Linked DNA regions of Homo sapiens: region 1 is linked to region 2. Evidence: fine-mapped expression QTL. A gene starts in region 2. The other region holds a variant in brackets. All regions are shown on one strand. Distances are from middle to middle.

Evidence for each region. PIP is the estimated chance that this variant, and not a neighbour inherited with it, causes the effect. A credible set is the group of variants that fine-mapping cannot tell apart.
Region 1: its variant is the best candidate, but not a certain one, in a credible set for the expression of PNRC1 in T cells (TOPMed, PIP 0.70).

What each region holds. Positions count from the first base shown.
Region 1 is chr6:89,123,399-89,128,768 of GRCh38, reverse strand. It overlaps a transcript of PM20D2 not described here. Among named protein-coding and RNA genes, the nearest start is that of SRSF12, 8.0 kb to the right of the region's middle. RefSeq lists a silencer at 85-379 and an enhancer at 85-379. The variant C/T (reference allele first, on the strand shown) is at 3,294.
Region 2 is chr6:89,078,458-89,083,827 of GRCh38, reverse strand. It overlaps PNRC1 (proline rich nuclear receptor coactivator 1), which reads right to left and starts at 3,077. Exons shown (of 2, transcript NM_006813.3): 1 at 2,394-3,077; 2 at 1-75. The coding sequence starts at 2,933. PNRC1-DT (PNRC1 divergent transcript) reads left to right here and starts at 3,248. Exons shown (of 1, transcript NR_187250.1): 1 at 3,248-3,666. RefSeq lists enhancers at 1,404-2,364, 3,883-3,972 and silencers at 2,273-2,652, 3,043-3,192, 3,243-3,452.

The sequences.
Region 1 (5,370 bases), 45 kb before region 2:
GTACAAAGAGAGGAATTTTACAGCTGGGCCACCGGGGGTGGCATCACATATTGGTGGGACCATGATGCCCACCTGAGCCTCAAACCAGCAAGTTTTTTAATTAAGGGTTTCAAAAGGGGAGGGGGTGTAAGAACAGAGAGTAGGGACAAAGATCACATGCTTCAAAGGGCAAAAAGCAGAACAAAGATCACATGCTTCTGAGGGAACAGGACAAAGGGCAAAAGCAGAACTACTGATAAGGGTCCAACAAAGATGACAAGGCAAAGGGCAAAAGCAGAACTACTGATAAGGGTCTATGTTCAGCAGTGCACATATTGTCTTGATAAACATCTTAAACAACAGAAAACAGGGTTTGAGAGCAGAGAACTGATCTGACCACAAATTTACCAGGGTGGAGTTTTCTCCCCACCCTAATAAGCCTGAGGGTACTGCAGGAGACCAGGGCGTATCTCAGTCCTTATCTCAACTGCATAAGACAGAGACTCCCAGAGCAGCCGTTTATAGACCTCCCTCCAGGAATGCATTCCTTTCCAAGGGTATTAATATTAATATTCTTTGCTAGGAAAAGAATTTAGCAATATCTCTCCTACTTGCATGTCCATTTATAGGCTCTCTGCAAGAAGAAAAATATGGCTCTTTTTGCCTGACCCAGCAGGCAGTCAGACCTTATGGTTATCTTCTCTTGTTCCCTAAAAATTGCTGTTATTCTGTTCTTTTTCAAGGTGCACTGATTTCATATTGTTCAAACACACGTTTTACAATCAATTTGTACAGTTAACACAATTATCACACTGGTCCTGACGTGATGTACATCCTTAGCTTACGAAGGTAACAGGATTAAGAGATTAAAGACAGGCATAAAAATTATAAAAGTATTATTTGGGAATTGATAAATGTCCATGAAATCTTCACAATTTATGTTCCTCTGCTGCGGCTCCAGCCGGTCCCTCCATTTGGGGGTCCCTGACTTCCCACAACAGGACTAAATGAATTTAAAATTTTATTTTAAATTTAAATAGTCCCATGTGTTTAGTGGCCACAGTATTGGACAGTGCAGATATAGAACACTTCCATTATTACAGAAAGTTCTATTAACCAATGCTGAGCTAGGCTAGACTCAGTGTTTTTGGAAGAGCATTTCAGCTAGGTGCAGTGGCTCTGGCCTGTAATCCCAGCACTTTGGGAGGCTGAGATGGGTGAATCACCTGAGGTCATGAGTTTGAGACTAGCCTGGGCAACATGGTGAAACTCCATCTCTACCAAAAATCAAAATTAGCCAGGCTTGGCGGCACATGCCTGTAATCCAAGCTATTCGGGAGGCTGAGGCAGGAGAACTGCTTGAACCCGGGAGGCAGAGGTTGCAGTGAGCCAAAATCACACCACTGCACTCCAGCCTGGGCAAGAGAGTGACACTCCGTCTCAAAAAAAAAAAAAAAAGCATTTCACAGGTACTGATGTGAACTTCCTTCAGAAGAGCATATAATGGATGTTTCTCTTTGTATTAATTTAGCAGTCATTTATGGCCATTGCCTGGACCCACTACTTCATTAGGGGTTGCAAAATTATGACATTATAATTCTATCATCTCCTCTTTATTTTATTGACTGGAATACTTTTAGAAAAACAAAACAAAACAAAACTTCCTTCATCAACCATTTGGGTTACCCTGAGGAATAAATTTATACAGGAAAGTTAGGATCCAAAGGTGACCAATTAGGGTTGTTTTTTAGTATAATTATGAACTTGTGCACTTAAAAATATTTGATATGTTTTAATTCATTGCAGTTATTGTTCTTATTGCTACTCAAATTGTCTTATCTCTAGCCAGGATTGTCTTTGGAATCCTTTTCACATGACCCCAGAAGCTTTTGATAACTTTTTTCTGATATGACAAGATATTTTAGGTTCATTGTGTACATTTTTCCCTCAAGCATGGAATCAGCCACACTTCCAAAAAGTCATTGTTTATTTTAAGACAAAATTATATTTAGGGAGTATGGTCTGGGCCATAAGGGGTGCCAAATGGTACTGGGCTGGTCATTGTTTCTAAGCCTTTTCAGTGGACAATGCTAATAACTCCTTTTTTTTTTTTTTTTTTTTAGATGGAGTCTCGTTCTGTCACCCAGGCTGGAGTGCAGTGGCGCAATCTCAGCTCACTGCAACCTCCAAGTTCAAGCAATTCTCTGCCACCCGAGTAGCTGGGATTATAGGCGCCTGCCACCATGCCCAGCTAATTTTTGTATTTTTAGTAGAGATGGGGTTTCACCATCTTGGCCAGGCTGGTCTTGAACTCTTGACCTTGTGATCCACCCGCCTCGGTCTCCCAAAGTGCTAGGATTACAGGCGTGAGCCACCATGCCAGGCCTTTTTTTTTTAAGACAGGTCTTTCTATGTCCCTCAGCCTGGAATGCCGTGGTGCAATCATGGCTCACTGCAGTCTTAACTTCACAGGCTCAAGTGATCCTCCCACCTCAGCCTCCCCAGTAGCTGGGACTACAGATGCGTGTCACCACACCTGGCTAACTTTTTAATTTTTTGTAGAGACGGGGTCTCACTTTGTTGCCCAGGTTGGTCTCCAACTTCTGGGCTCAAGCCATCCTCCTGCCTTGGCCTCCCAAAGTGCTGATACTACAGGCATGAGACACCATGCCCAGCCAAGAAATACTTTACTTTTTTTTTTTTTGAGACAGAGTTTCACTCTGTCGCCCCGGCTGCATTGTAGTGGCATGATCTCAGCTAACTGCAACCTCCACCTCCCAGGTTCAAGTGATTTTCCTGTCTCAGCCTCTCAAGTAGCTGGGGCTACAGGCACCCACCCCAATGCCCAACTAATTTTTGTATTTTTACTAGAGATGGGGTTTTGCCATGTTGGCCAGGCTGGTCTCGGACTCCTGACCTCAAGTGATCCGCCTGTCTGGGCCTCCCACAGTGCTGGGAATACAGGCATGAGCCACTGTGCCTGGCTGAGAATTTTTTTTTTTTTTTGAGACAGAGTTTTGCTGTTGTTGCCCAGGCTAGAGTGCAATGGTGCGACCTTGGCTCACTGCAACGTCCGCCTACTGGGCTCAAGAGACTCTCCTGCCTCAGCCTCCCGAGTAGCTGGGATTACAGGCACCCGCCACCACGCCCGGCTAATTTTTTTGTATTTTTAGTAGAGACGGGGTTTCACCATTTTGGTCAGGCTGGTCTTGAACTCTTGACCTCTGGTAATCCACCTGCCTTGGCCTCCCAAAGTTCTGAGGTTACAGGCATGAGCCACTGCACCCAGCTGAGAAATGGTTTTTTTTTTGAGA[C/T]GGAGTCTCGCTCTGTCACCCAGGCTGGAGTGCAGTGGCGCGGTCTCGGCTCACTGCAACCTCCGCCTCCCAGGTTCACGCCATTCTCCTGCCTCAGTCTCCTGAGTAGCTGGGACTACAGGCGCCTGCCACCACACCCAGCTAATTTTTTGTATTTTTAGTAGAGACGGAGTTTCACCGTGTTAGCCAGGATGGTCTCGATCTCCTGACCTCGTGATCCGCCCACCTCGGCCTGCCAAAGTGCTGGGATTACAGGCGTGAGCTACCGCGCCCGGTGAGAAATACTTTTTAAAAGAGAAAATATATCACACACAAGACCCTTTTAACTGATCTGCTTGTACCAGTCTCTACTGTTCCAATTCATCCTCCACATTTTTGTCAGAATATCCTTATTAAACACAAATCTGATCTTAATCTCCTGCTTAAAAAATCTTGATGGGGCCAGGTACAGTGGGGTTACATACCTGTAACCCCAGCATTTTGGAAGGCTGAGGCAGGAGGATCACTTGAGGCCAGGAGTGTGAGACCAGCCTGGAAACATAGCAAGACCTACCTCTATAAAAAATTTAAAAATTAGCAGGGCATGGTGGTACACACTTGTAGCACCAGCAACTTGGGAAGCTGAAGTGGGAGGATTGCTTGAGTCCAGGAGGTTGGGGCTGCAGTGAGCCATGACTGCACCACTGCACTCCAGCCTGGGCAACAAAGCAAGACCCCGAATTGAAAAAAAAAAAAAAAACAACAACAGCAACAACAAAAACAACTTTGGCTCTAAATCTCCATTCCAATCTCTTTAGCATTCTTCCTTCCTTCTCCCCTAGTTCAGCAACACTACACTACTCTCACCACAAATGTCCCTTTGCTCATCGAGTTCACTTTGCTTTTTTTATTCCTGGGTGAATTTAATCCAATAAATAGCACAAACATTGATTTCCTCTAAAATAACTCCTAGTACTCCCCGCCAGAGAACTAATCTGTTTCCATTATATCCTCCATACTACTCCGAAATACCTTTATGTGGCACTAATGAAACAATATTATAATGACTTATTTACATACGTGTCTATCTCTAGCAAGAACGTCTCTCAAAAATTAAAGATACTCACCAGTGGTGGTACTATTTAGTTTTATATGTTACACTGATGAGACATTAAATGTGGAATTGCATAGTGTGAGAGTTAAAACTACAGGCACACACCACCATACCCAGCTACTTTGTTTTTATTTTTATTAGAGATGAGGTTTCGTATGTTGCCCAGACTAGGCCCTTTCCATATTTACATTAGGGAGAAAGTTTTAGTTTTGTGCCAGTATGTCTTCAACATCTCTATATTGAGTGATTAATTTCCCTTTTATAAGAGAGAGCAGGCTTGGAGCCTGCGCAGACAAAAGTAATCGGCTGGAATTTCCAACATGGTTTTGTTTATTATTATTATTTTGAGACATGATCTTGCTTTATTGCCCAGGCTAGAGTGCAGTGGCACGAACACAGCTCACTTCAGTCTCAACCTCCTGGACTCAAGTGATCCTCCCACCTCAGCCTCCAGAGTAGCTGGGACTACAGGCACACTCCACCATGCCCAACTAATTTGTTTTTATTTTTACTAGAGATGAGTTATCATATGTTGCCCAGACTAGTCTTGAACTCCTGGCCTCAATCATCCTGCCTCAGCCTCCCAAAGCACGGGGATTACAGGCATGAGCCATTGTGCCTGGCTCTCCTTCTGTCTATAAACCTTTTTTTTTTTTTTTTTTTGAGACAGTCTCACTCTGTTGCCTAGGCTGGAGTGCAGTGGCACGATCTCAGCTCACTGCAACCTCCACCTCTTGGGTTCATGAGATTCTTGTGCTCCAGCCTCCTGAGTAGCTGGGACTACAGGCACACACCACCATGCCCAGCTAATTTGTTTTTATTTTTATTAGAGATGAGGTATCGTATGTTGCCCAGACTAGTCTCAAACTCCTGCCCTTATGCAATCCTCCTGTCTCAGCCTCCCAAAGCACTGAGATTACAGGCATGAGCAACTGTGCCTGGCTCTCCTTCTGTCCATAAAACTTTAAAAATTAATATTGGTGA
Region 2 (5,370 bases):
CAAGTGTATACCATGAACAAGCTGGCCATGGGGAAGGGCAATTTTCTCCGATTTTCCCATCTTTGATTTTAAAACCTACAAAGACAAGAACACAAAAGTAAATATAGTTTCTAGATAAAAATCAGTTATGAACCTCATATCACATATCTAGTTTTGTTGTGTTTAAGTTTGCCCACAGCCATAGAAAAGAACAAAATTATGTTCTTTGTGACAACACGTATGTAGCTGGGGGCCATTACCCTAGACGAATTAATGCAGAAACAGAAAACCAAATATCGCAAGTTCTCACTTACAAGTGAATTTGGGAGCTAAACACTGGGTACAACATGGATATAGTGGGGAACAACAACAGACACTAGGCACTACTAGAAGGGGGGTTGAGAGAGAGATGGGGACCTACTGGGTACTATGCTCACTACCTGGAATGGGATCATTCATACTCCAAACCTCAGCATCACGAAATATACCCATGTAGCAAACCTGCACAAGTACCTCCTTGATCTAAAATAAAAGCTGAAAATTACAAAAACTTTAATTGGGCATGGTGGCTCACGCCTGTAATCCCAGCACTTTGGGAGGTCAAGGCAAGCAGATCGCTCAAGCTCAAGGAGTTCGAGACCAGCCTGGGCAACATAGCGAAACCCCATGTCTACTACAAATATAAAAATCAGCCCGGCGTGGTAACACGCGCCTCGGGAGGCTGGCTGAGGCGGGATCCCTTCAGCCTGGGAAGGGGAGGATGCAGTGAGCAGAGATCGATCGTGCCACTGCATTCCAGCCTGGAGTGCGATAGAGGCAGACTCTGTCTCAAGAAAAAAAAAACAACAAAAAACTTAAATTTCCCTTGACTTTTAAGTTCACTCTTGTTCGCCACTAAAAATGCAGTTAATCACCACTGCTAGTTACCAGTATGCAACGTGAACCAGTTCTAAAATGTCAAACTAAAAAAAGTCTGAAATAACCCAAGTCCACCTTTCTACAACTGTAAGGAAGACTAATGAGCTCTCTTCCAAATACGAGTGCCAGAAACAATCTTTGCTGTGTACCTCCTTTCTGGTTTAGTAACTGCTTCAAGAACGCTGCTTCACTCACCTTAATCTTTCCCAACTTAAGTGGGCCTTATAGGAAGTCTTGAAAGGATGGAAAAGCGTAAGGTAATCCACTAGATCACTGCACTACCAACACTTGTAACGCGGTAGTAAGCAAGACACGACACGAAAGAGGACCACAACTTTCCACGTCAATAAGGTTCACTGCCAGAGCTCCCTAGTTAGTACCTGTTCTAGAAAACAGGCCAGGAAACAAGCACAAAAGCTTTTAGGTAATCACGGATATTTCAAAAGTCGTGGAATTTTAAAAGGGAGACATTGAGACGATAATTTAAAGAAACAAGGTGGGCAAATTTTTTCCCAAGGGCACAGATAAACCGCAAATCTCTAATTCAATGCAACATTCTTCACTAAATAACGGGAACTTTTTCATTTCATTATTACGAAGATTAAGTCATTGAACTTAAGTCCATAAAACGTTATTCTGACAAGACTTTGAAATCATTTCGTAGACTTAATCCTATTTAAACTTCTATCCATTTTATCCTAATGCAATAGCACTGCAATCAGACGGGCTAAGTCAATTCAATTGCTAACTCTTCTGAAAACTTACTCTGGACACACTAACACGAAGTACCACAGTGGCAAAAGTAATAAAATCAGTTTTGTGCGGCTCCTGCCAACTCTTAACTTGGAACCACTAAGTAGGTCAGGCCCGAGGCGGGCAGAGCCCCAACTGGACTGCGCGTCCCACACCGGGCACCTCACATTTTGGCACAACTCCAACCAAACGAAACCCAGCCGCTCGGAGCCCACTCCACCCCCTACGGCGGGACGTTAGAGGCCGTCTCCGCGTTTCACCGACTAGGACTGGGGCTCCCGATAGCCGGGAGGCCGAAAGCCGGGCCCAGTCCTTCCCCAGCTGCCCCCACCCGGCCTCGCCTCCTTCATGGGCGCCGGAGCGCCGGGCACGTAGCGCGCGCTGACGTCAGCCCTCCCGCGGGCCCTGTCCCTGCCCCCACCCCGCCGCGCGCCCGGAACGCCGAAACCCCCTGGAACGCCGCCAGCCTTCTAAATCGGGGCTGTTGCTGGGGCGCAGCGGCGCTTCTCATTGGCCGACTCCTGGGAGCCAATCAGAAGCGCCAGCGCATGCCTCCCCTTCCCCCTTCTTCCCCCAAAGCAAGAATGGAGCGGGCGTCACGGAAACTTCCCTCCCGAGTAAACAGCCGCCCCCCCCACCCCGCCCCCACCCGCCCGACCCCCCGGGTGCAGGGTCTGCAGCCCCAGAGCTCGGCCGCGACCGTCTAAGGGCCCGACTCCCCAACGGCCCCCTGGCGGCCTCACCTCTTTCCTGAGGGGGGTTTGGCCGGGAGCCGCGGGCCGCAGCGGGGCAAGGTCGGGGCTGGCTCCCTCCGTGCCGGCTGCGGCTGCAGGACTCGGGGCCAAGGCGGCGGCCGGGCCCGGGACCTCCTGCGCTCCGCTCGGGCCGGTCGCGGGGCTCCGGCCGCCCTCCAGACTCGGCCGGTGCTGCTGGTACTGGTGGAAGCGGCTGGGCAGCTGCCCTGCGGGGCTGGCCCGCACCTTCTTCTTTCGCCGCTTCTTCGGCGCTGCCCGAGGAGTGCCTCCCGCCACGGCGAGGCTGCGGTTGGGCAGAGCTGCTGGAGCGCGAGGCTGGGGGGTCAGACACGGGCCATCTCCCCCTAGGAAATGAGGGAGGAAGAGGGTCGGGGGCAGTGCCCGGGGGTCCGGGATCCGGGGTAAAGGAGGCGGAGCCGTGGTCACCATCGGGAGGGCCCCAAAGTAACCTCGGGAGGAAAAGCCAAGCGGCGCAAGGCGGCCACCCAGGACGAGCGGCTCCCGCTGCGGGACGGAGACGACAGTCATAGCGCTAGGAAGCTTGTCGCTCAGCAACGAAGAGAGAAGGAGAAGGTGAATGAAGCCAGTGAAGATAGGGTGGCGGCGATGGATGCTGCTAGGAGAGCCTGAGAAGATCGCGGAACATGACTCGGGCGGTGGCGGCGCAGCAACAAATAGCCACAGCCCCAGCTCCGAGTGTTGTTATCGGAAGCTCCGCCCCGCGCCCGCCCACTTTCCTGCGAAAGCCCAATTAGAGTGCGACAAGGCAGGCCACGCCCCCTCGCTCCGCCTCCGCAGCTTCGGGTAGACACACACAAACAACCAGCTTGCTGCAGCCTGGCACAAAGAGGGCGCACTGCGCAGGCGCTGCCAGCGAGCTCTTTTGGGAAGAATCGGTCCCGCGAACAATGAAATTGGGTTTCCGCCCCACCCTCTTTACTCCTCCCCAGCACGCCCCTGCGCTTCGCCGGGCTAGGGAGTGGTGGTACTGAAATGTCCCGGCGGAGTTTGTTGATGGGGGTGGGGAAGGGAGGGGGCAGGGGGAGGGCGGCAGGAAGAACGGGGGCTGGGAAGAGGGGATGACTTTGGCAAGGCCACGGTTGCCTCCTCCGCTGCTGACCTTGGGGAAGTATCCGTTTTATTTTCAGCCCAACATAACAGCGTTATCATTTTAAAACAAAGATTTCTAAGTACGCTGTAAGGATTTCTTCCCTAGCAATCGTGAAGAAAATCAGTCTACATTTAAATTTTATCTACTGAAGTATGGCTCACGATTCTTTCATTTACTTGGTTCGGCATCGCTGCTTATTAGTCTCGGTGATCAGAGTAAAAATCAAAGTGACTTACTGATTGAATTAGCCCCTCGATGTATAAAAAGTTCTCCGTAAATCCATAAATGGAAGTTGGAGTTTTTACTGATTTCATACTTGAAGGATTGTGAGACTTTGGGATCAGAACATTGTGCCTGGTTACTTGAGGAGGCGGCAAGCCGGCTTGCGTCTCAAAGGGAGAAAGTGAAACAGCTCTGCAACATAGAGTATTTTGTTAGCTGCGCGTAAATAGAAATTTTTCGCGATCTCCCCGCACTGCTCAACCACAAAAAAGAATTGTGGCCATAATTTATCAAGCATTTATGTTCCAGGAACTGTTCTTTACATAGATTGTCTCACTTTAACCTCACAACAACCCTTACGAATAGGTACTAAGAAAAATAGATCAGACCTCAGCTCTGCGAAGTAGGCAGGCTGTCATTCTCTTCCTTTCACTACTAATGCCTGGGGCAATTGTTTAAAGGCATTTTGTTCCTGATTAGCTGCCTACGCATTATCTTTAAGTTTCTGAAATTTAAGATACAAAGAACAATGTATAGCTAGTCAAGAGCCCACGATATTTTAATGTAAATTGGTAAACAATTTAGGAGCTGCCTCTTTTCCTTTAAAAACCTACTTGTAACTTGCTAATCCGAGTGTATATTCAGGGCAGCTTGAATCTATGGTCCTGGGTTGCAGTCCTCAAGCTTGGCCTGATTTTGCCTCAGCTTCTTTTTGGAGGGACAGTACTGTATTTTATTCCCATTTTACAGCTGGGGAAACAGGCTTAGAAAGGCTAAAGGACTTGTCAAAGATCAAACGGTAAGTTAACATCAGAATTTGATCTCCAGTCCAGGTACTGCAAGACAAAAGTTTTAATTTTTTTTTTTTTTTTTTTGAGACGGCGTGTCACTCTGTGGCCAGGCTGCAGTGCAGTGGCGCCATCTCGGCTTACTGCAACCTCCGTCTCCCTGGTTCAAGAGATTCTCCTGCCTCAGCCTCCCTAGTAGCTGGGATTACAGGCACCCGCCACGCCCAGCTAATTTCTGTATTTTTTAGTAGAGACGGGGTTTCACCTTGTTGGCCAGGATGGTCTTGATCTCCTGACCTCGTGATCCGCCTGCCTCGGCCTTCCAAAGTGCTGGGATTACAGGCGTGAGCCACCGCGTCCAGCCCTGCCACACTAGATTCTACATTATTAGAAGACCACAGTAATCTTACACTTCTGTATCCTCACCGCCTCTACAATAGTTTTCAGCTTTGGAGTAGTAAGCAATTAGTAAGCAATGAAACGTTTTATGATTGATGGCAAAGTTGGACAGATTGCATATCCAGAAAAATGCTTCCCAATCACTTTATAAACTTTTTTTTTTTTTTAGACGGGGTTTCTTTCTGACACTCAGATTGGAGTGCAATGGCATGATCTCGGATTACAGCAACAGCCGCCTCCCAGGCTCAAGAGATCCTCCAACCCCAGCCCCCCACGCCCCTGAGTAGCTGGGACCACAGGCACACACCACCACTCCTGGCTAATTTTTTGTGTTTTTAGTGGAGACAGGGTTTCACCATGTTGCCCAGGCCGGTCTCAAACTCCTGAGCTCAAGCCATCTGCCTGTCTCAGCCTCCCAAAGTGATGGGATTACAGGAGTGAGCCA